Homo sapiens: one gene and its partners. The protein of the gene in region 6 purifies or fractionates together with the protein of the main gene of each other region. This does not show direct contact. Each region holds a gene or a part of one and is shown on either strand. Other genes may lie near its edges. The genes, in order: SLC25A19, FMNL1, CHM, SLC25A20, ACAD11, POLR3E and TRMT1L.

Evidence for each region.
Region 1: the proteins of POLR3E (region 6) and SLC25A19 purify together in Homo sapiens (affinity purification with mass spectrometry; one large-scale study listed by BioGRID and IntAct). This does not show direct contact.
Region 2: the proteins of POLR3E (region 6) and FMNL1 purify together in Homo sapiens (affinity purification with mass spectrometry; one large-scale study listed by BioGRID and IntAct). This does not show direct contact.
Region 3: the proteins of POLR3E (region 6) and CHM purify together in Homo sapiens (co-immunoprecipitation; one large-scale study listed by IntAct). This does not show direct contact.
Region 4: the proteins of POLR3E (region 6) and SLC25A20 purify together in Homo sapiens (affinity purification with mass spectrometry; 2 studies listed by BioGRID and IntAct, with this or other methods). This does not show direct contact.
Region 5: the proteins of POLR3E (region 6) and ACAD11 purify together in Homo sapiens (affinity purification with mass spectrometry; 2 studies listed by BioGRID and IntAct, with this or other methods). This does not show direct contact.
Region 7: the proteins of POLR3E (region 6) and TRMT1L purify together in Homo sapiens (affinity purification with mass spectrometry; one large-scale study listed by BioGRID and IntAct). This does not show direct contact.

Annotation. Positions count from the first base shown.
Region 1 is NC_000017.11:75,279,434-75,282,933, reverse strand, and holds part of SLC25A19 (mitochondrial thiamine pyrophosphate carrier), read left to right. Parts: intron 1-3,500. UniProt on the Homo sapiens protein: Mitochondrial transporter mediating uptake of thiamine diphosphate into mitochondria. It is not clear if the antiporter activity is affected by the membrane potential or by the proton electrochemical gradient.
Region 2 is NC_000017.11:45,228,385-45,231,884, forward strand, and holds part of FMNL1 (formin-like protein 1), read left to right. Parts: intron 1-2,219; coding exon 2,220-2,303; intron 2,304-3,500. UniProt on the Homo sapiens protein: May play a role in the control of cell motility and survival of macrophages. Plays a role in the regulation of cell morphology and cytoskeletal organization. Required in the cortical actin filament dynamics and cell shape.
Region 3 is NC_000023.11:85,862,559-85,866,058, forward strand, and holds part of CHM (rab proteins geranylgeranyltransferase component A 1), read right to left. Parts: intron 2,264-3,500; coding exon 2,072-2,263; 3' UTR 1-2,071. UniProt on the Homo sapiens protein: Substrate-binding subunit of the Rab geranylgeranyltransferase (GGTase) complex.
Region 4 is NC_000003.12:48,860,883-48,864,382, forward strand, and holds part of SLC25A20 (mitochondrial carnitine/acylcarnitine carrier protein), read right to left. Parts: intron 1,778-3,500; coding exon 1,660-1,777; intron 1-1,659. UniProt on the Homo sapiens protein: Mediates the electroneutral exchange of acylcarnitines (O-acyl-(R)-carnitine or L-acylcarnitine) of different acyl chain lengths (ranging from O-acetyl-(R)-carnitine to long-chain O-acyl-(R)-carnitines) with free carnitine ((R)-carnitine or L-carnitine) across the mitochondrial inner membrane, via a ping-pong mechanism.
Region 5 is NC_000003.12:132,572,810-132,576,309, forward strand, and holds part of ACAD11 (acyl-CoA dehydrogenase family member 11), read right to left. Parts: intron 3,118-3,500; coding exon 2,963-3,117; intron 1-2,962. UniProt on the Homo sapiens protein: Acyl-CoA dehydrogenase, that exhibits maximal activity towards saturated C22-CoA.
Region 6 is NC_000016.10:22,328,409-22,331,908, reverse strand, and holds part of POLR3E (DNA-directed RNA polymerase III subunit RPC5), read right to left. Parts: exon of another isoform or gene 3,400-3,500; coding exon 3,322-3,399; intron 1-3,321. UniProt on the Homo sapiens protein: DNA-dependent RNA polymerase catalyzes the transcription of DNA into RNA using the four ribonucleoside triphosphates as substrates.
Region 7 is NC_000001.11:185,136,454-185,139,953, forward strand, and holds part of TRMT1L (tRNA (guanine(27)-N(2))-dimethyltransferase), read right to left. Parts: intron 3,127-3,500; coding exon 2,914-3,126; intron 1,344-2,913; coding exon 1,153-1,343; intron 1-1,152. UniProt on the Homo sapiens protein: Specifically dimethylates a single guanine residue at position 27 of tRNA(Tyr) using S-adenosyl-L-methionine as donor of the methyl groups. Dimethylation at position 27 of tRNA(Tyr) is required for efficient translation of tyrosine codons.

The DNA of each region.
Region 1 (3,500 bases), on a different chromosome or scaffold from region 6:
TTCTTTTATTTGATAAGCATGTTTTTTTTAAATATATGATTTTTATTTTTATTTTTATTTTTAGTTATTTATTTATTTTTTTTGAGACAGAGTCTCACTCTGTCGCCCGGGCTGGAGTGCAGTGGCACAGTCTCGGCTACTGCAAGCTCCGCCTCCTGGGTTCACGCCATTCTCCCTCCTCAGCCTCCCGAGTAGCTGGGACTACAGGTGCCCGCCACCACGCCCAGCTAATTTTTTGTATTTTTAGTAGAGACAGGGTTTCACCAGTCACAGGATGGTCTCGATCTCCTGACCTCGTGATCCGCCTGCCTCGGCCTCCCAAAGTACTGGGATTACAGGCGTGAGCCACCGTGCCCGACCTATTTTTATTTTTATTTTTTTCAAGAGACGGAGTCTCGCTCTTATTGCCCAGGCTGGAATGCAATGGCCAGATCTCGGCTCACTGCAACCTCTGCCTCCTGATTTCAAGCAGTTCTCCTGCCTCCGCCTCCCAGTAGCTGGGATTACAGGCGCCTGCCATCATGCCCAGCTATTTTTTGTACTTTTAGTAGAGACAGAGTTTCGCCATGTTAGCAGGCTGGTCTTGAACTCCTGATCTCAGGTGATCCACCCGCCTCGGCCTCCCAAAGTGCTAGGATTACAGGCGTGAGCCACCGCACCTGGCCTATATATATATTTTTTGAGACAGTGTCTTGTTTTGTTGCCTAGGCTGCAGTGCAGTGGCATGATCACTGCTCACTGAAGCCTCGACCTCCTGGGATCAAGTGATCCTTCTGCCTCAGCCTCCCCGGTAGCTGAGACTACACCTGGCTGAGTTTTGTATTTTTTTAGAGACGGGGTTTCGTCATGTTGCCCAGTCTGGTCTTGAACTCTTGAGCTCAAGCCGTCTGCCCGCCTCGGCCTCCCAAAATGCTGGGATTACAGGCATGAGCCACCGCACTCGGCAGAGGTTGAGTTCTTGTCCTTGCAGAAAGCAAAGCTGGGAGAGGTTCGGGTTTTCAGTTTGTCTGGCAGTCAGTTTGTAAAACCCATGACTGTGGGCAGCACTGTGCGGGGTGCTCTATGTCCCTGCCTCAAAGGAGCTCACAGCCTCCCTGGAAGACAGAACCTACTGCTATGAAACAGAACAAATAATTACCCAGCAGTGGGCTGGATCAAGGACTGCCCACTTGAGAATTTATTGCTGGATTATTATGAGAGCGTCTTTGTTTTTTTGTTTGTTTGGTTGGTTGGTTTTTTGAGACAGTCTCACTTTGTTGCTCAGGCTAGAGTGCAGTGGCGCAATCTCAGCTCACTGTAACCTCTGCCTCCTGGGTTCAAGCGATTCTCCTGTCTCAGCCTCCTGAGTAGCTGGGATTACAGGCACGTGATGCCATGTCCGGCTAATTTTTATATTTTTCGTAGAGACAGGGTTTCACCATGTCGGCCAGGCTGGTCTCAAACTCTTGACTTCAGGTGATCCCCTGGCCTCTGTCTCCCAAAGTGCTGGGATTCCAGGCATGAGCCACCACGCCCGGCCAATTGCGAGTGTCTTTGGTTTCCACAAAGAATGGGCTGGTGGAAATGGGATAGACTCGAGGAAGAATTTACTGAGTGAAAACAAGGGATTAAATCCTGAAATAGACCTCCCCACCATGATCTCTGTTTCCTGGACATATTTAAGAATAGCATCATATGTATGTGTGTCTGTGTGTTCTCAACCAAGAAAGAATAATTTTATTGTTATTATTTATATATATTTTTTGAGACAGGGTCTTGATCTGTCACCCAGGCTGGAGTACAATGGCTGCAATAGCTTGCTGCAGCTTCGAACTCCTGGGCTCAAGCAATCTTCCTGCCTCAACCTCTCAAGTAGCTAAGACCACAGGTGTGTGCCATCACACCTGACTAATTTTTTATTTTTTTATTTTTTGTAGGGGCAGGGTCTCATTATGTTGCTCAGGCTCAGGCTGGTCTTGAACTCCTGGTTTTTTTTTTTTTTTTTGGTTGTTGTTTGTTTGTTTTTGAGACGGAGTATGGCTCTGTCGCCCAGTCTGGAGGCACAATCTCAGCTCACTGTGACCGCCTCCCAGATTCAAGTGATTCTCATGCCTCAGCCTCCCAAGCAGCTGGGACTACAGGTCCGCTACCATGCCCAGCTAATTTTTTTTTCAGATGAAGTCTCACTCTGTCGCTGAGGCTGCAAGCTCCACCCCCAGTTTTAAGTGATTCTCCCGCCTCAGCCTCCCAAGTAGTTGGGATTACAGGCGCCCACCACCGCGCCTGGCTAATTTTTGTATTTTTAGTAGAGACGGGGTTTTGCCATGTTGGCCAGGCTGGTCTTGAACTCCTGACCTTGTGATCCACCCATCTCTGCCTCCCAAAGTGCTAAGATTACAGGCGTGAGCCACCGCGCCTGGCCATGCCTGGCTAATTTTTATATTTTTAGTAGAGATGGGATTTTGACATGTTGGCCAGGCTGGTCTGGAACTGCTGGCCTCAAGTGATCCGCCCACCTGAGCCTCCCAAAGTGCTGGGATTACAGGCATGAGTCACCATGCCTGGGCTTTTTTTCTTTATTTTTAAGGCAGAGTCTCACTCTGTCATCCAGGCTGAAGTATAGGGGTATGATTACAGCTCACTGCAGCCTCCACCTCCTGGGGTCAAGCAATCCTCCCACCTCAGCCTCCCAAGTAGCTGGGACCATAGGCACTTGGTACCACACCTGGCTAATTTTTGTATTTTTTGTAGAGATGGAGTTTCATTCACCATGTTGCCCAGGCTGTTCTCGAACTCCTAGGCTCAAGTGATCCTCCTGCCTTGGCTTCCCAAAGTGCTGTGATTACAAGGCTGAGCCACCAGACCTGGCTTATAAACAATAATTTTTCCACTGTCTCAACTCTGCTTTAGGATACTGTTAGTGGGAAAGGAAGGATAATTTGTTTAAGAGTTTGATGTGGGCAACATGGCTCTCTACAAAATACAAAAAAATTAGCCAGGCATGGTGGTGTGCACCTGTAGTCCCAGCTACTTGGAAGATTGAGTTGAGAGGATTGCTTGAGCCTGGAGAGTGAGCCATGATTGCACCATTGCACTCCAGCCCAAACAACAAAGTGAGATATCCTGTCTCAAAAAAAACAAAGAATTGGGCTGGGCGCGATGGCTCTCGCCTGTAATCCCAGCACTTTGGGAGGCCAAGGCGGGCGGATCACAAGGTCAGGAGATCGAGATCATCCTGGCCAACATGATGAAACCCCGTCTCTACTAAAAATACAAAAATTAGTTGGGCGTGGTGTCAGGTGCCTATAATCACAGCTACTCGGGGGTCTGAGGCAGGACAATCGCTTGAACCTGGGAGGTGGGGGCTGCAGTGAGCCAAGATTGTGCCTAGGCAACTCCAGCCTAGGCAACATAGCAAGACTTCGTCTCAAAAAAAAAAAAAAAAAAAGATAATAGCATATTACCTCTAGCTTCAACTATTGACATGTTGGATTTTAGATTCTAGAATGATCAGAGAATAT
Region 2 (3,500 bases), on a different chromosome or scaffold from region 6:
GAGGCCTCCCCTCGGCAGTAACAACCAGGGGGCTGTCCTGGGGGAGTGGACCCAGGTGGTGGCTCAGAGTCAGCTCCAGGCTCAAAGCCAGCCCAGCTCTCCTCTTACTGGCTTCGTAACCTTGGGCAGGTCACTAAACTAATCTGTGCCTGCACCTGTGAGGTGGGAATGTTAACGGTGCCAGTGACGGCAGTGAGGGTGGAAGGCAGTCGTCGGCGCGCAGGGCTCGGAGCAGTGCCTTGCACAGTAGGCATTCTGGTGGAGCTGGCCACCTGACTGTTGGAGATGTCATTATGACTAGTTACTGCCCCTAGAAATGCCGCTGGGGCCATTCCAGAACCATAAAGTTCCCTGGGTGGGTGAGGGCCTGGGAGGATTCATGTCGGGAAGCAGCTGTCCCCTCTGTGGCTCTGTGCTGGGCTCAGCCATCCCCTTACTCCCTGGCCACCGTCTTTTGTGCCGGCCACGGCTCCAGTTTCCCTGGCACTGCTGGCCCTGTCTCTCCTCTTTGTCCCTTTTCTCCACCTTGCTCCCACCTTAGCCCTGCCCCACCCTTTGTCTCTGTGGGGTGGGGGTGACTGAGAGACATCATCGAGAGAGACAGACAGATGGACAGGGACAGAGAGACAGAGAATGACCTCGCCTCCTTTGTACTCCTGGGCGGTTCCCCCACCCCCTGCCCCTGTGGTAGCAGGAGCTGTCCTGGCCCTTGGAGGGCTGGGGGAGGGCGGCTGATGAGACAGCGGTGGTTTCCTCAATCCAGGCTCACTTTCGCAATAGGGGAGAGGAATGACGTATTCCACCCCCTTCAGCCGCTGGGGGCGGGGGGCCTGGCGGAGGGGCAGTTTCACCTCTCCAGCAGGGCCTGGCCGGAAAGCTTAGGCAATGGAGGCTGAGCGCACCCAGCTTCCTGTTGTCTGGGCCTGACCCAAGGCAGTGATTTTGGGGGTAAGGTCTGGCTGGAGCCCCAGAACTAGGCCCAGCACCCTGGAGGGGAAGCTGGCTGGGGAGTCTCAGGTGGGTGTGGCCCTCTGACTGCTCCAGCTGTGGCGTCTCTGCAGAGCCACATGACTGAGGGTGTGGAGCGTGAACCACCATGGCTGGTGAGCCCCTCAGGGTCTCCCACATCCCCGATGGAGACTCTTACTCAACTCAGATCTCCTTGAGGGCAGGAACTGTCTTTTTGGGCCAGACATATAGAAGGCTCTCAATAACCTGGGGTTTACTAAATTGAAGGGAACTGGCCTCATCTTTTGGGTCTGTCAGGGAGACAAGCCAAGTCTGGGGGTCCAGAAAGCCCCTGGTGCTATTGACACCTGGTTGATTCGGCAGCCCTGGGCTGGCGCTAACCTGCTCCGTGGTGGCAGGGGCACCGTACCCTTGTCATCTGTGGCCAGGGGAGGAGGACCCAGGCAGAGCTCTGTTGACCTTTCTCAGCTCCTGGGGGAGTCCCAGCTGGGCGGCCCCCACCACAGACCCAGGGCACTGGCTCTTCTCCCCAGTGCTGTGGCCGAGTGACCTTCCCCGCAAATCTCCCCGCCCCTGCAGCTGTGATCTGGAACTCCCTGCCTGCTGACATGGCCGCCCTCAGCTCCCCCAGCCCTCTCCTTCCTTTCTCAGCCTTCTCCTCCAAGTGGGAGGGGGCTGGAGAGGGATGAGGAGAAGGCTGCTGTCCACTCTCCTTGCAAGAGATTTCCTGGTGTTCGTGAGGCACTGGTGCCCTGGGCCTGGTCTGTGTACACGTGGGATCTGGTGGCACGTGGAGGTGGGACACTGGCCACTGGCCACTGGCCACACTTTGGCCTGACTGGTGATGGCTCCCCTGTTAGCTTCCCACCAGAATGGGGGAAGAGATGATGCCCCAACAGGAAAACTGGGGCCCAGAAGTGTCTCAGGTCCCCAGAGAGGTAGGCTGACAACCCACGCTCCTGCCTGCACACCAGGCAGGCCAGGGAGGCGGTGTGGGGGGTGACACAGCGCAGGCAGACTCGGATTCAAATCCTGCTCTCCCTTCTAGCTGGTGTGCCCCGGGAAAGGTGCTCTGTCTCTCTTGGCCTTGGTCTTCTCATTGGATAACACTACGTATCTCCTAGGGTCAGAGGATTCATGGGGGTGATGCACCTCCTAGGGAGCCAAGTGGGTTTCCCCCAAATGCCCATTCTCCCCTCTCCCCTTGTTGGGGCCCCAGGCTCAGGGGTCTTTGTCCTCCCTGTCCCCAGAACTGCATGAACTTGCCCCCAGACAAGGTCCAGCTGCTGAGCCAGTATGACAACGAGAAGAAGTGGGAGCTCATCTGTGATCAGGTAGGTGCCAGCACTGCCCAGCCACCCCTTCCCTCCCACTGTCAGTACCCCACCCTGACCAGGCTGGGGCTATGGGGAGAGGGGCACCGCCATACTGCCCATGGAGCCAAGACTCTGCTCAGTGGCCAATGTAGCACCTGGGGAGGGTGCTGGGGTCTGCAGGACTCCCAAATCCCTTTCTCTTGAACTCCCCAAAAGACCTTGTGAGTCACTAGCAGGGCTGGGTCAGCTTCAGAGGAGCTGGCAGAGCTGGTTCAGGCTGGGGCAGCTGGGGCCTCGCACTGTCACTGTCCTCCTGCTGAGCTTCCTGAGAAACCTCTCTGGACTGGGGAAGGGAGAGGGCGACCCTGGGGTTGGACATCTTCACCTGACCCCATGGGAGGGAGGGAGGAAGGGGCGGGAATTCCTGCCCTTTTGCCTTGGGTCCAGAGGAGCTGCAGTTGACCAGCAACTCCCCAAGGCCAGCCACTTTGGACCCCTGCTTTGGTGCTCCGTCCAGGTGCCTGGACTCACGGGTCACTCAGCTGTCCCCACCCCTCCAGCTTCAAGGGCTGCGGTCGGCCATGGGCCGACCCTCTCCCAGCGCTGGGCTGGGTGGGGCTCGGCTGCCGCAGGGATTCTGTGAAGGAGGGAGGCTGCAGAGGCTGGGGGTGGGGAGTTGGGAGCTGAGAGCCTCCCCTGGGAGCCAAGGCTGGGCCTTTGCCTCCTGCTAATGAAGCAGATGGCCTGAGCCGGCTGGGCAGCAGTCCAGGGGTAAGGGCTGGGAAGTGGGAAGAGGGTGGAGAGCTGCCCCTGGAGTCTCTGGTAGGGGTCCCCTTGGAGCAGCTCAGCCTGACATCTCAGAGGTTGGGGGCTCAAAGGGCTGGAAGAAGTGAAAGTCTGAGGGGTGGCTCGGCGAATCTGAGGGGTTTGGGTTGGAAGGGTGGGGGCCCCTCTGGGGAGGGGTCTTTGCCGTGGTCCCTGCCTCTTTGTGTGAGTGGCCGCTGGAGCCTGCAGTGGGGTGGGGGGATTAGGAATTGCATCACTGAGCACAGGAGAGGAGCACGCAGGTTCCTGCCAACGCAGATGTGCAGGGCGGCTGGGTCCGAGTCCTACCCAGGTGCTGGGTCCCCTTCACGAGGCACCTCCAGCCGTCCTTCCCCGCCGTATGCCAGCTCTGGTCCAGGGAGGGCACCACCTGCTGGCTAGACTGAGTTC
Region 3 (3,500 bases), on a different chromosome or scaffold from region 6:
GGTTATAATGTGATCCTACTGTCCCTGATTTGTGTGACATTATAAAAGGGGAAGTGAGGGAAAGGGGACTAAAGAGATGGGGAGGGGCTGTACACTGGGAGGTAGGGATAGGAGCAGCCTGAGAGGCTAGTAAGTTAAGTTCTTCCATTACTCTGGCTTGAACTATATCTGCAGTGGGTAGAAAGGTGAGGCAAGAGCTATATTCCTTGGTTCTTTCCATTTCCCATGAATCTGTGACCTGCCACAGCTGGCTTCCTTTAAGAACATCTCTGAAACCTGGTGAGGTCAGGGACCAGCTGCAGTTGAAGTATGTAAGAACTATGTACTTTACATTGGAGCCATGGCTTCCTGACAGACAATATAGGCCAGATGTTGTGAGAAAAAAAAACAAATAGTTCATTTGTTTGTTTATTTATAGGCAATTATAAGTCTCAACTATTGCTCAAATAAAGTAGACCATCAGAGCTTGGCCATTTGAGAAAATTTAAATATAGGCAACATCACTGCAGCTTAGTTTGCTGCCTATGTACAGCCCCCTTTTTTTTTTTTTGTGAGACAGAGTCTTGCTCTGTCACCCAGGCTGGAGTGCAGTGGCAAAATCTTGGCTCACTGCAACCTCCGCCTCCCTGGTTCAAGTGAGTCTGCTACCTCATCTTCAAAGTAGCTGGGATTACAGGTGCCCACCATAACACCCAGCTAAAATTTTGTATTTTTAGTAGAGACAGGGTTTCGCCATGTTGGCCAGGCTGGTCTCGAACTCCTGACCTCAAGTGATCTACCCACCTCAGCTTCCCAAAGTGCTGGGATTACAGGCAGCCCTAACGTTTTTATGTAGTGTATATTAGGGCTTACCAACTGTCATACACAATTTGGAGTCCTTGGTGGTTGCAGGTTTACCTACCAGAAAAGGAATAAAACAATTTATAGAGTGTTTTCCTTAGTAATATTTCAAAACCACAATTCTACTTGTTACTATTTTTACTGGTCTGTAAGACTATAAAATACTACTTTAAAAAAGAAATTTTCATTTAAAAAGCTTAATGCAATAAAAACACTGTGATCTATTTTGTTTGGAAGTTGACTGACAGCAAGCAATTATTTCCTGCGTGAGACTTTTGAGATTCATCAAGTCAATGGGAAAATTCTAAAACAATTTTCTTCTGGCAAACCGATTCTAAACATGGCATTGCATTGTCTTCATAACCATTCTCATATAGTAGGCATAGTAATACTATTTCCACTTTATATATGGAGAAACGTAGGCTCAGAAGTTAAACAATTTACCAAATATCATCAGTAGGACAGCCAGGATTAAATTAGGTCTGTAGACAATTAGCCTAATACTCTAGTTACTTGACAGACAGAATATTCAAATACCAATGAGCCTATCCACACCTTTCCTTCCATTCTTTCATTTCTTCATTATTGACCTTTCCCAATATGTAAATAATTTACAAACAAATATCACTACTGATACTAAAAAACACTACTGACTTATTCGTAAAAATGTCTAAACACCTTTATATTAGCATTTTCAATGCTTCTCAACATAGAAAGCAAAACAAACCTGTATTCCAAATACAGGCTTCTATCTAGATCATGATACTTTAGTTTTTCTATATGTTTTTATCATTATGTTATGATGCTCTTGTCCATAAAGAAAATAAAATTCAAATAACCAAAGAAAATACATGAGCTGGTTCTGAAAATGTGGCTTTCAAACAAAGATCCAAAGTGGTAAGCAAAATTGTCCTAAGACCATGGAATTATTAACAATGCATAGGATCACTTTCATATCCACAGTTACATTCCTGAGAATCAATTGATTTATAATTTTCATCTGCTAGTCACACAAGTTTGGTATTTAAAATGAGCAAGTCAATGTGCTTTATAAGTGTTGTGTGTTCTTGGAATGTCCTCTATAAGGAAAATCCCCTTTTGGATTTCTATTACCTATTTTGCCTTATAATTGCTGCTGCTTTCTAACATTTCTCAAACAGTCCTTCTATCAAGTAGACTCTGAGACCAGTCAGAATTTCCAAAGTTGGGTATCCAGTTTGGTGTATATCCATTATTCAGAGGACTCCTCTAGGTTTCCAAGGTTTGTGCTTTCCTTGAAAGTCTCCGAGTTAGCCTCTGGTATGGCACTGGATTCTGAAGCCTCTGGCTGTAAACTGTCTCCATCAAGGATAATGTCTTCAGGATTTGGTGGAGGGGGACAGAAATCTTCATTGGGGCAGATTTCCTGGAAAAGTGTTTCAGCCTGGCCAAGGAAGAAAAGATAAAATCGTTTTTGGAAATCGGTTTAAAATGTGTGTGCATTTCTGGCATTAACTAAAAAAAAATAAGTGTTTTATCCTTAAAAATTTGCTTAAACAGGCTACAGTACTTAATCAGAATACATGAACTTCCGTAAGTCTGTTTTCAGAATTCTATGACTTCTCCCTTTAATTCTATACATGTATTGAGGTCCACTCTTCAAGGATGGCAGTACCTCATCAGGTTCATTATCAAGTGTTCAGATTGTTGAGAACTGAAATACATTCATTCTATATATCAATAGAAATACAATTTCCTTAATATTGTTTATATGATTTCTTATAGAGCCTTGATATGGTTTGGTTCTGAGTCCTCACCCAAATCTCATCTCAAATTGTTATCCCCACGTGTTAGGGGGTGACTAGATTATGGGGGCGGCTGTTCCCATGTTGTTCTTGTGATAGTGAGTTCTCAGAATATCTGATGGTTTAAAAGTATTTAGCAGTTCCCCCTTTTCTCTTTCTCCTGCCACCATGTGAGATGTGCCTTGCTTCCCCTTCACCCTCTGCTATGATTGTAACTTTCCTGAGGCCTCCCCAGCCATGTGGCCTTGTGAGTTAAACCTTTTTTGTTTACAAATTACCTAGTCTCAGGTAGTATCTTTATGGCAGTGTAAGAGGCACTAGCATTGAGAATTGGTACCAGGAGTGGGGTACTGCTAAAAGATAACCTGAAAATGTGGAAGTGACTATGGAATTGGGTAACAGGCAGAGGTTAGAACAGTTTGGAGGGCTCAGAAGAAGAGAGGTAAATGTGGGAAAATTTGGAACTTTCTAGAGACTTGTTGAATGGTTTTGGCCAAAATGCTGATAGTGATATGAACAATGATGTCCAGGCTGAGGTGGCCTCAGATGGAGATGAGGAACTTATTGGGAACTGGAGCAAAGGTGACTCTTGCTATGCTTTAGCAAAGAGACTAGTAGCATTTTCTCCCTGCCCTAGAGATCTGTGAAACTTTGAACTTGAGAAAGATGATTTAGGGTATGTGGCAGAAAAAATTTCTAAGCAGCAAAGCATTCAAGAGGTGACCCAGCTGATTCTGAAAGCACTCAGTCATGTGTGTTCACAAAGAGATGCCTTCACATTGGAACTTATGTTTAAAAGGGAAGCAGAGCATAAAGGTTTGGAAAATTTGCAGTCTGACCATGTGGGAGAAAAGAAAAAACCATTTTCTGGGGAGG
Region 4 (3,500 bases), on a different chromosome or scaffold from region 6:
GAGTGCAATGGTGCAATCTCGGCTCACTGCAACCTCTGCCTCCTGGGTTCAAGCAATTCTCCTGCCTCAGCCTCCTGAGTAGCTGGGATGCATGCGCCACCACGCCCGGCTAATTTTTGTATTTTTAGTAGAGATGGGGTTTCACCATATTGGTCAGGCTGGTCTTGAACTCCTGACCTCGTGATCCGCCCGCCTCGGCCTCCCAAAGTGCTGGGATTACAGGGGTGAGCCACCACGCCCAGCTATTATTATTTTAATAGAGACAGGGTATCACTATTTTACCCAGGCTGGTCTCAAACTCCTGGGCTCAAGTGATCCTCTCAACTCAGCCTCCCAAAGTGCTGAGATTACAAGTGTGAGCCACCATACCCGGCCCCCACAGATTTCTTGAATGTAGAAAAGCCAAGCTTGGCACTAGACCCTTCAGGGATTCTTGAGAAGTTCCTTAGCAGCCACATCCTATTTGCAACAATCACTTTGCAGCTATGGGATGCTGCTCTGGGCCAAGCACTGGTGTAAGTGAGTACAAACACACATGATATAATTTCATTAAAGTTCCCTCAGCTGGGCTTAGTGGCTCACGCCTATAATCCTAGCACTTTGGGAGACCAAGGCAGGTGGATCATCTGAGGTCAGGAGTTCGAGACCAGCCTGGCCAACATAGTGAAACCCTATCTCTGCTAAAAGTACAAAAATTAGCCAGGCATGGTGGCACACACCTGTAACCCCAGCTACTCAGGAGGCTGAGGCAGGAGAGTCACTTGAACCCAGGAAGTGGAGGTTGCAGTGAGCTGAGAATGCACCACTGCATTCCAGCCTGGGTGACAGAGCAAGACTCTGTCTCAAAAAATAATAATAATAAGGCCGGGTGCGGTGGCTCACACCAGTAATCCCGGCACCTTGGGAGGCCGAGGCAGGTGCATCACCTGAGGTCAGGAGTTTGAGACCAGCCCGGCCAACATGGTGAAACCCCATCTCTACTAAAAATACAAAAAAATAGCCAGACATGGTGGCATGTGCTTGTAATCCCAGCTACTTGGGAGGCTGAGGGAGGAGAATTGCTTGAACCTGGGAGGCAGAGGTTGCAGTAAGCCAAGACTGTGCCATTGCACTCCAGCCTGGGCAACAGGAGTGAAACTCCATCTCAAAAAATAAAATAAAAATAAGTAAAAAAATAAATAAGGTTTTCTCTCAGTGTGAAAGTCCATGTGGGCAAGTGACATGCCCACAGTTATAAGCACAGTTGTTGTATCTGGCCTTCCTCTAAGCTGCCAGCTCAGGACAAGAGTGAGACTGTCTCTGCCTTTCCTACTGCCACTATAACAGGACATACTTCTCAAAACCAGGGAGATCACCACTGTCCCCAAGTCACACTTTCTTCCCACTCCTCCCTCCAGAGATGATTTCTATCTACTTGCCACTCCCCTCCAACTGTGATGCCATGACTTCTACCCCTGCAGACACCTGGGAAAGATGGAAGGTCCCCTCATCCTAATCTACGTCCATGCTGGCCAGGGGGAGATGCTTACTGCCAGTATTGTCAGAGATGTGACATGCATGGTGCCAAGGCTAATCTGGCAATCCAGGCAAGACCTTCTGCAGCAGACCCACCTCAGGTGACCTCCCCAGGTGACCTCAAGTGGAGGCCTGAAAGGTTACCTCGCATAAGGGTAAGCACAGTCCCTTTGTAGATGCCTCGGATCCCAAACTCCTGGTACAGCTTCTTTGCACAGTCCAAGGTACCAGTGTACTTGCTTTCTCCTGAAGAAGCCTGAATCTGGGAGGGAGGAGAGGATCATTAAGTCAGAAACATCAGAGTCACAGACCCAGCAGGTTACAGGAGACTACAAAGTAAGTATGGCCATTATGTGTTACAGCAATAAAAGACTTCACTGTCAAATTGATAAGTATCTGGAATGTGTGATCTTGGGGCAGGTACTATGAAATAAGGCTAGGTGAAAATATCAGAAAACATTCACATTGACTAGAAATAAAACCAACAGAAAATTTGAAAAACAAGTTGAGGAGGCCGGGTGCAGTGGCTCATGCCTATAATCCCAGCACTTTGGGAGGCCGAGGCAGGCAGGTCGCCTGAGGTCAGGAGTTTGAAACCAGCCTGGTCAACACGGTGAAACCCTGTCTCTACGAAAAATACAAAAATTAGCTGGGCATGGTGGTGGGCGCCTGTAGTCAGCTGCTCAGGAGGCTGAGGCAGGAGAATCGCCTGAACTTGGGAGGCAGAGGTTGCAGTTAGAAAACATATCGTACCACACTGCACTCCAGCCTGGGCAGCAGAGTGAGACTGTCTCAAAATTTAAAAATAAAAAATAAGTTGAGGAAATCTGTCAAACACAATAAAGCTATTTGGAAGGTCTAAAAAGGAAGCGACAAATACTTTAGTCATTCATTTATTCCTTCAACAAATATCCCCTGAAGACCAACTGCATTCCAAGCCTACCTGGTCATGAGAGTTGGTTAAGAAAAGGTGAACAGAAAATTTCACTCAAAGCTCTAAGTTCCCAGACAGGGGTCCTGTTCAGAGAGGGCTCCTATGCAGAGCCAGAGGAGGGCCAAAGAGAGGCTCCTACCCCGCCCCTGAGAGCCAAGAACCTGGGGGTAGGCAGGGGTAATCCCAGGAAAGATCTGAAAGACAGCTCCATGCAGGATCCACACAGGGATCCCGCTTGTTCAGGACCAAGAGGAGTCAGAACACACAAGAGCATCAACCAAACAATAATTAAAGCTGGAAAGGGAGTTCAGCTTTAACAGTTCCAAAGAGAAACACTTACAAATACATAAACCAAATAGCTTTCTTACATATCAGGATTAACCAGTTAAAAAATAATAGAAAAGGCCGGGCACGGTGGCTCACACCTGTAATCCCAGCACTTTGGGAGGCTGAGGCGGGCAGATCATGAGGTCAGGAGTTTGAGACCAGCCTGACCAACATGGTGAAACCCTGTCTCTACTAAAAATACAAAAATTAGCCAGGCGTGGTGGTACATGCCTGTAATCTCAGCTACTCAGGAGGCTGAGGCAGGAGAATCGCTTGAACCCAGGAGGTGGAGTTTGCAGTGAGCCGAGATCGTGCCACTGCACACCAGCCTGGGAGACAGAGCACAACTCTATCTCAATCAATCAATCAATACAAGAAATGGATCCCATTCAAAATAGCAATAAAAGCCGGGCACGGTGGCTCACGCCTGTAATCCCAGCACTTTGGGAGGCCAAGGCAGGCAGATCACCTGAGGCCAGGAGTTCGAGACCAGCCTGGCCAACATGGTGAGAGCCCCCATCTCTACTAAAAATACAAAACTTAGCTGGGCGTGGTGGCAGATGCCTGTAATCCCAGCTACTCAGGAGGCTGAGGCAGGAAAATGACTTGAACCTGGGAGGCGGAAGTTGTAGTGAGCCGAGATTGCACCACTGCACTCCAGCCTGGGTGACAGAGTAAGACTCTGTCTCAAAAAAAAAAAAAAAAAAAAAAAAAAAAAGCAACA
Region 5 (3,500 bases), on a different chromosome or scaffold from region 6:
ATGGTGCTGGGATAACTTGCTAGCCATCTGCAGGGGATTGAAACTGCGCACCTTCCTTACATCTTAGCCATTTTTTTGACGTTTAATTGTCCTTTTATTTTCCTTTCTTTTCTTCTTTATTATTTTAAGTTCCGGGATACAAGTGCAAAATGTGTAGGTTTGTTACATAGGTATACAGGTGCCATGGTGGTTTGCTACACTTATCTACACGTCATCTAGGTTGTAAGCCCTGCATGCATTAGCTATTTGTCCTAATGCTCTCCCTCTCCTTGCCCCCACCCTCCAACTGGCCCCGGTGTGTGTTGTTCCCCTCCCCATGTCCATGTGTTCTTATTGTTCATCTCCCCACTTATGAGTGAGAACATGCACACCTTGGCCATTTTTATGCTTGGTCATGTTTGCCCTTCAACAGGGGATATTTGATTAGAGTTTCCCTAAAGCGGTGATGTTCAACATGATAGCTACTAACCATATGTGGCTAATGAGCATTTGAAACATACCTAGTCTGAACTGAGATGTACTATAAGTATAAAATATGCACCCCATATTGAAGAATAAATATTAAAATATAAAGTATCTCATTAATAATTTTTATATTGATTTCATGTTGAAATAGTATTTTTGATATATTGGGTTAAATAAAATATATTATTAAAATTAATTCCATCTTTTTCTTTTCACTTTTTAAAAATGTTGCTATTAGAACATTTAAAATAACATTTAAGGTTCATAGTATATTTCTTTTGGATGGCACTGCCCTAGAGGTTGAAACATGGCTCTGAATTAATTTCAAACAAGTTGCTGGTGGTGAATAAATATTTTTTGATGGCTGTAAAACAGGATAATTACAACTTTATAACTTCATGAACAGACTTAGAAGACATTTACTTCTCAGCTTTAGAATAAAGGAGGTATTCTCAGTTGGGTCTCTATAGACCCTAGATTTGCTGAAAAGCATTAAATGGGTAGAAACTAGGTGCTCTAGGGAACTGCCAAATATATTTCCTAAGACAGAACTGGGATGGAGAATTTTTTGCGTTACAGCCTGGAGTAAATTAGAAGGCAGCTGGAAGGAGCCTCCAAATTCAAAGAAATGAAATGTTCCTTTCACAAATTAAAATAAAAAAGCTGGCCCAGATTTTTGCTTATGACATGCTCACACATCTTTTTGTTTCTGCCAGATCACGTTATTTGTGCCAGATGTGAAAAGTTTCCAGTGAAAACAGGCATATTTGTTAAAAAGCCAGGCTTGCTCTGCATGACACATTAACTTTAAAAGGTGGAAGGGAAATTTTTTACTAATGCAGTATTAAAACACCACTCAGGAAAGCAGCACTTGCACAGAGGGCTTTTGTGCATTCGCGATGCTTGTTTGTCGACTTTACTGTGTCCTCCCTTCACCCTGCTCCAGAGTTTGCATGCAAGCTTGACAAAAGGGTAAGAAGTAATGGTTGGTGCCCTGAGCACCTCTTCATCCTTCTTCAACAGCATCAGAGGCTGTATCCAGGGCCCCAGAGGGTCACACTTTCTCACCTCCTCCCACAGTGCCCAGCCAACAGCTGAACTTTGCTGTATACTAAAAACTTGCCTTCGCTGTATACTAAAAGGGCTCCTGACAAATTATTCCCAGGTGTAGTGTCATAAAGCGGGCTGTAGCTTTTCAGTTAAAAAACTATACAAATAAATCATATAATGCTGAATAATACTTTACAAAAAGCAAACATAGATTATAATAATTTAAGGTAAAAAATACATACTGCAAATTTCATAAGATGGTCAAAAATGTATAAGGAGACCGACATACTAAAATATACATGTGCAGCAAACACAAATACAATTCCATCACCACAGATTTGACCTAACACTAACATGTTAGCAATAATAAAGAGTGAACATTTAATAATAGTTTTTCTTGCCTTCTTAAAACTTAGAAGGGAGATGATGTGGATATCCTACTTCTCTGTAGAAGACTTTTTAAGGAAGTCTGAAATAATACCTTCTATTTCATCTCAATACATATTTCCTAATTTTTTTTCTTTTTCTGGAGACAGAGTCTCGCTCTGTCGCCAGGCTGGAGTGCAGTGGCACGATCTTGGCTGAACGCAACCTCTGTCTCCCGGGTTCAAGCAATACTCCTGCCTCAGCCTCCCCAGTAGCTGGGACTACAGGTGCACATCGCCATGCCTGGTTAATTTTTTTTGTTTTTTTTTGTATTTTAGTAGAGACGGGGTTTCACCATGTTGCCCAGGCTGGTCTTGAACTCCTGAGCTCAGGCAACCCACCCGCCTCGGTCTCCCAAAGTGCTGGGATTACAGGTGTGAGCCACTGCGCCTGGCCATATTTCCTAATTTTTATTATATGGGCCACATGTAACTATGTTTACAGTGATTTGTAACAACAGACTCAGTAGTATATAATTTACAGATGATAATTCAAAAAGTCATGAATATCTCACAAAATGTTGGTCCCATTTCTACTTGTGTTTCTCCAGTGACAGAATTCAAGTCCTCCTGAAGAAGCTGATTCCACTTTTAGGTTTATTAGCATGTTTCTCCTTTCCCTGAGTTTTGGGCTGTTTTCCTGTAACTTTACACTTATGTGTCCTAATTCCTTCTAGGAAACCAATGGACAAGGCAAATCCTTCTTCCTTATGACAGCTCCTTCATGTCCACAGGGAGCTCTAATGTTCCAGGTTCTCTAAAGAACAAGAATCTGAGAAAGTTGAAGGAACTGTCTACACTCTTGTGTGCAGAGGTGTTGAAGCATTTTAGGAACTATTTAATTTTTCATAAAGATAAATACCTCTCATTAGACTATATTTAAATACAGACATAAATATGCCTTATTGAAAAGAATCACCCGGTTCATGTAGAGAAAGTCTGTCTCTCACAAGTAATGTTTTTGTTCAATGTTAGTGTAGTGCACCGGGCTACAATAAATTCAAATAAGTAATCGTCCTCACATGTGCATACAACTTCTTCTTGAAAGCTATCCTTTGTGTTGCCCGCTCACACATGATCTGCAAAGCGCGTTCCGCCAAACCTACTGTTCTCATACAGTGGTGGATTCTGCCAGGTCCAAGGCGGCCTTGGGAAATTTCAAATCCCCTACCTTCACCTGGGAAGAAAGGGGAAAAAAAGGGGGAATGTGAAAATGGCCTAGCCCATTCCTTTTGTTATTTATACAAATCCTGGGAAAGAGATGAGCTGCCCTTAATAAAAATGGCTTTCTAGTGAAAAAAAGTCAGTTCTATAATAAGGTTCACTATGAATTCATGGGAATTTTGATTTCTATGTTTTTAAAACCACCACCATTAAACATTTCAAATTTCAGAACTGTCTCTTAAGTATGTACTATGCATAAGCTATTTTATTAATGCTGCAATAGATACAAAGTTGGAATAACACATAGTCCCTGTACTAGGAGTTTAGAATCCAGAAGAGTGGGTAAGGGTAAGAGATACAGAGAGAAACAAAGGCAAAGGAAGAAGAGATTTTCTG
Region 6 (3,500 bases):
ATCTCTAGAGACCCAGCAAGACAGTGTACAGAAATAAAAACACAAAAGTAAAGGCATTAATGCTATGTCTGGAAACTTGAATATAAATAAAAACAAAGGTATATGCCAGCATAACAAAAGAACTGGTGAAGAGACATGAGAGGATGAGTGGCTTGAACATATTTCTGCATGGTAAAATGCAGGCGTGCATCGGACTTAGCAAGCAGGTGAAGCGACAATCTAAGCTGCACGGAGATGAGAAGAGGGTGTCAAAATTGGTGTGAAGTCTTAATGCACAAACATGCCACTGCATCCATGAAACAGGATGCCGTAAAATACGTTACACCCCAAAATAAAAATGGAAAAGATTGGATTCAGTATGTCTAATATCTGTCATAAGAATTCTGAAAAAAACAAAAAAAAGTAACAACTCACAGGATTTTATAAGAACTCAATTGTCTAGTACAATAATGACCCGCACCAGGGCACAGCTGAAATGGCACTGACTGATATACAGAATAATGAAAAATTCTGCAGTTTGGCATAAAGGAAAGAATACAGGCCAAATTTAAAAGACCAAGAAGGAGAATGTTATGGAATTTCAACAACTCTGAAAACTTAAACAATGGAAACTCTCTTAAAGATGCTTCATGCCGGGCGCAGAGGCTCACGCCTGCAATCCCAGCACTTGGGGAGACCGAGGCAGGCGGATTACCTGAGGTCAGGAGTTCGAGACCAGCCTGTCCAACGTGGTGAAACTCCGTCTCTACTAAAAATACAAAAATCAGCCACGCGTGGTGGCACACGCCTATAATCCCAGCTACTCAGGAGGCTGAGGCGGAGGTTGCAGTGAGCCGAGATCGTGCCATTGCACTCCAGCCTGGCTGACAGAGGGAGACTCTGTCTCAAAAAAAAAAAAAAAAAAAAAAAAAAAAAAAAAAGGATGCTTCATGTATCACTATTTGTCTAGGACTAGAATTTTGAGAGGCAAATCATTTGATCACGTAAAAATAGAAACTTTGATAACCTCACACATTGTTCCATACTTAGCTGGTTTTGTTTGCATCTTTCTGCAAACATTAAGAGGAGATGGATTTGATTCTCCTTTTTTTTTGCTATGGTTCATGTAAACAGCTGACTGCTACATGAAGTATCCTTTGCCTCTTAAAATTCTAGTCCCAGACAAACAGTAATACTGTATTGTAATCCATTTTAAGACATGAAAGAATGCAGACAACTCCTCTGTCTCTTCAGAAGCTAAAGCAAGGAAGAAGCAGAGATTCCAGAATTCAGCAACAGACATGGGGAAGAGCGAGTCTCACTGGAGAAGCAGAGGGAGAGGCTTCCCGGGAACCAGGCTTAATTAAGCAAAGTATCACCCTCGGTACACATGTGTTCAGAAAATTACACAAGTGAAAACAGGAAGCAGTGAACAAGGAAATGCAATCATAGTATATTACTGATGTTTGGCTCTACAATGGATAGATTTTCAGTTCATTCTGTGACAATGCTATAAACAATGATAGCCAATTAAAAAGAGGTAAAGGCCTGGTGTGGTGGCTCACGCTTGTAATCCCAGCACTTTGGAAGGCCAAGGCAGGCAGATCATTTGAGGCCAGGAGTTCGAGACCAGCCTGGCCAACATGGTGGGACCACCCCCCGACCCCTACCACCGCGATCTCTACTAAAAATACAAAAATTAGCTGGGTGAGGCAGCACAAGCCCGTAATCCCAGCTACCCGGGTGGCTGAGGCACAAGAATCGCTTGAACGCAAGAGGCGTGAGCTGAGATGGCACCACTGCACTCCAGGCCTAGATGACAGAGCAAGAGCAAGAGCAAGACGCTATCTATCTCAAAAAAAAAAAAAAAACTGGCGTAACATATCTATCTCTACAGTCTCCTAAAATAGTTGAGAGCTAAATCTCATCCACCACAATGGGAAGCCCATTGCTAATGACAGGCTGATTTTTTTTTTTAAATGGGGGCAGCTATTTTAGTGGTATCTTTTGGTGATGTAAATGCCTATGATCCTAGCACTTTGGGAGGCTGAGGCAGGAGAACTGCTTGAGGCCAGGAGTTCAAGACTAGCCTGGCCAACATAGTGAGACCCTGTTTCTATTAAAAAAGTAGTAATAAAAGTGGTCACCTCTGAGGGGTGGCAGTCAGGTCCAGCAGTGCAAGAGCTTTCCTATTAAAACTTCTAGTCTGATTTGATGTTTAAAAATCTGCATTTATGACTTTTGTTTTTTTGCCTTTTTGTTATCAAAGTATTTCAGATACCCTCTATTCTGGACAAAAGCACTCAAGCTTGCTCAGGAAAAGGCCCCAGCCCCTTAGATCCTCAGCCTGCCAGTTGGCTCCCCTAAGAGGCAGCTGGGGACAGAGAGCTCAGTGGGATTTCTGCTGACTCCCTTCTCCCCACACCTTAGGAGCAGGGCCTAGACACGGTCAGACCGACTGGCGTTTCGACCATCAAATTAGGTACGTTCACGGCCTAAGAAAAGCTGGGATGCAGGGTCCATGACTACACCACACACACGCAAGGCGCTGCTGCTTCCACTCACATTTCTGGGCACTGGACACCTGTGACCCTCCCCATCACAGTATGACTAGAGGCAAAATGACCAATTTCTTTAACCTAAAAGTCCAGGACCTGACATCTGACAAGGAATCCTTTTGATTCCTGCTGCCAGAGGCCGCCTGAGAAATGTGCTTCACCAGTGCTCTATAAGCCTGGCTGGATCAGAGTTGCTCAGGAAGCTTTACAGAAATTCAGATACCTAGGACAGTACCGCATACCTACTGAACAGAACTGAATCTATGTTTTTTTTTTTTTTCTTTCTGAGACACAGTCTTGCTCTGTCGCCCAGTCTGGAGTGCAGTGGTGCAATCTCGGTTCACTGCAACCTCTCTCTCCCAGGTTCAAGCAATTCTGTCTCAGCCTCCCACGACTATGGGCATTTTTAGTAGAGATGGGGTTTCACCATATTGGTCAGGCTGGTGTCAAACTCCCAACCTCAGGTGATCCACCCACCTTGGCCTCCCAAAGTGCTGGGATTACAGGCGTGAGCCACTACGCCCAGCCTGTATTTTTTAAAAGATGATTCTGATGGAGCTGGCTCACAGACTGGCATCTGGGAACCACTGGTTTAGGTTCAAACTATTGGCACATACAGCTTATTTTGTTAGCGTACAGAGTTGGAGCAGGATATTTAAAACCGAGTGTGCCAGAAAATCTGAAATGTGTGGCTGCACTTTGGGTGCACATGTCCCCCAAGGCCTCCAACGCTGCAGGAAACCCCCCTGGCTCTTCGGGAAGATGGCAGCAAAGTTCACCTCACCTGATCACTCATGTCTCCAGACTCCCAGAGGGCAAACACCTTCTGCTCATCCGGGGAAGCAGCAGTCTGGGGGGGAAACTGACCAAGGCCCAGGGGTGAGTTGCTTGTCCATCTCTACCCCATGGATCCATTTGCTTGCCTCATCCCTCCCTGTCTGCCCCAGCCCAGATGCAGGAACA
Region 7 (3,500 bases), on a different chromosome or scaffold from region 6:
TAAGGAACATGACAGAATTTCCTCCATTACCACCACCAGTTAACATTATACTAAAGTACTTGCACAAATGAAAAGCATATCATATTTGTAGGAAGCTTCAAAAATCACAGTATCTATTCTCCCCAATTTAATGTCATCAAAATAATATGCCAACTGGGTTATTATTTACTTTTATATTAAGGGATTAACAAAAGAGCAATACAGGAACACTGAAAACAAAGAGCTTTGAGTAGGGATTGCCATCACAGATATTAAATGACACTGAAAAGCCTCTATAGTCAAAACAGTATGATAGACGTGTATGAAGAAATATCCAACCACTGGAACAGAACAGAAAATCTAGAAGCAAACTCAAATACATGTGGAAATTTAGTATAAGATAAAGAAGGTATTCTCAAATCAGTGGAGGAAAGGTGTACTATTCAATACAACCTAATCTACTTTGAATAATCCAGGAATAGGAAAGCTCTTTCTAACTACAGGCAAAATCCAGACTACATAAACATTCAATTAGCAACAAAAAACTTCTGCAACACAGATTAAAAAAAAAGTGACAAAATGAGAAAAAAATCTGCAACTTAACATAGTAAGTGCTAAACTCAAAAATTCATAAAATACCAAGAACCTAACAGAAAACAATAAGCAACTGTTTCCATGTCCCAGAACTGAAACAAACAGAAAGAGCTTTATGAAGGCATAAACTACAGCTTTTTCCTTGTTTCCCATCCCCAGGCCTGGCATATAGTAGAGGCTCAATAAATGTTTATTGAATGCATTTTATAACTGATGGCTTTTATACACAGCCAGAAACATGAAAATTATTTTTATAAAATTAATGATTTGTAACAGCCTGGAAAAAACGTAATCTGACTTATGTTCCTAAAATTAGTTGAGAGTGGAAACTAAGTTATTTCTAGATGTTTCGATAGAAGGCAGAGCTAGAAAGCATATATTGTACAGCATGAGTAAATAACTTTAATAAACTCACACGAATGTCTTGTCTGTTGACGAAAGGAAATCCAGTATAGGAAATAACAAAGTTAGCACTGTAATCTTTAAAATCAAAGGACAACAATATGTATAATTAGGTATGTGATAAAGGCTTATTCAGTGGAGGATTATAGATAAACATAATATATAACTTGAATTTACCTTCTACCATATTACCATCCTTCTGAAAAATTCTCTCTTCACACCACTGACAATGGATCAGGTATTGAATCTTCTTGGCTGTTTCATCTGCTGAAGTAGGTCCCCTCAAAACTCTCACAACTACCAACACAAAATGTTCCAGAGCCACTGCAAACAGTACTTCTATGCCTTTGTTGCATCGGGCTGCAGCTCTACAATAAATTTTTTCAAGTTATTTTGTGGGCTTATCATTTTCCCTTGTTTGGCATTATACTGACAATATTAACCTGGACAGTATACTATGGATAAGTTATGGGACATCAAGAAAAATTCAATTCTCAGTAGCAGTGCTTTTAAAAGATCATTACTGTAACTTTTACAGAAATTGAAACACAGGAAATAAAAGATGCTTGGGAGGGTCTTCAGTTTCTAGACATTTTCCCTTGCGATATCCTCTCAATAGGGCAATATTTTCTGGTTTTCAGTCATTTTCACTTTGTTTCTTATCATCACCACCACATTGCTTCCTTTTTATCTATTTTATTTCCTATAAAAGCTTCTTTCAAACAGTATCTATTTATTGAGTAATGACTATATGCAGGATAGTATGCTAGCTACTGAAAATTGAGTGAAAAAAGAACAGTCAAAGTCCTTTCCACCATTAATTTCACAGACTTTTTGGATTAAGCTCTACTATATACCATTTATGTACTCTGCAGTCATATACTACATTTAATTTATATATATTACTCTGAATTTGCTGATATTACATTATAGACATTTTTAAGTATGTGCAGTTAAGTCCTTAGCATGCATACAGTAAACATCAGTTTTCAGGTAATTAGAAACAACCCTGAAGGTCTATGAAGTCTAATAATCTGTATTTATCCTGAGGTAGAAATTTCTACTTAAATGCTCTGAAACTAGTATTGGGGCTGGCAAGTGAGCTGGCTGATTATCCATTATCTATATTCACAATATCCGTTTATATTATATTATTCTAGCATAATCTGCATATAGTAAGTGCTCAAAAAAAGTCATCCTTTTAAAAAATAACTGTTTTCAAATTCTGTTTGGAAATCCTGGTGAGAAATGGAGAGAACTTCCCATTTTGTAAGACCATTTTGCAGAATCAAGTTTGTAAGCCATCATTTTATTCAAACTATATAAATAAAGAAGATAAAACAGAATGGATATAAAAGAAATGACTGTTTCTTTCTGAGGCAGAGTCTCACTATGTTGCCCAGGCTGGAGTGCAGTGGAGCAACCTTGGCTCACTGCAGCATGTGGCTCCTGGGTTCAAGTGATTCTAGTGCCTCAACCTATAATCGTAGCTGTGATTACAGGTGTGTACCAACATGCCCAGCTAATTTTTGTATTTTTAGTAGAGACGGGGTTTCACCATGTTGGCCAGGAGTCTTGTTTCATCCTGGGCAACATGGTGAAAAAACAAAACAAAACAGTTTTTGCTTTTCCTTTCATATAGCTATCCTTTATCCTACATTGTTGAAATAAACTGGAAATTAACTTTCACTTTTACCTTTTCTTTCTTATACTTTATTTCAGTAACATTTTAATTGGAGAGTAAACTGAATATTTCAGGTATAAACTTTTAAATAAAATTACAACAGATACCACGTAAGATTAAAAACCAGTATTACAGATAAGGAATACAGAATTTATATTTTGTGCATATTTTGAATAAGGTAAGTACTTCTTGTAATATTATCTCTTTTTATCAAATACTGAAACACACTAAGTACACTGTTGGCAATTTGGTACCTTGCCACTGCAGCTACAACAATTCTGGCTGCTAGTTCCTTGTAATATTCAGTTCGGACAATGTTACATCCGTAGTGACGCCGGGCAACATGCTGTGCCTTGGCATATAAAGAACTGATATCTGTAGAAGTCACTGACACTATGCCAAGGTTTCTTATATTTCTGAATGCAGAATCTAGATAATTCACTGATGTTCCAAAAGGGTCTAGATGTCTAAAATCAGAAAGAATATAGACATTTTAAAGTCATATTAGTAACAAAAATTATACCACTGTAATTATTTCTAATTATAAAATTCCATGGATTTAAAAATACATTGCAAATATATTTTAAGTACATAATTCTGTTTTGAAATTAAGTAATAAAATGATAGTATGATGTATCAGACATGTAAAAATAAATTCGGGTTAGAGGAAAAGTCACATGCCCAGGCATTTTATTTCAAATACTAGAAAATTTTCATACTGCATACCTTAGGCCAATGTCAAAAAATGGCATTAATTTAAATAAATAAACAACAAAAAACTGTCTTAATTTTTAACTACTCCTCGTCCCCAAAATTTCAGATAAGTTTAGAAAGTGACACG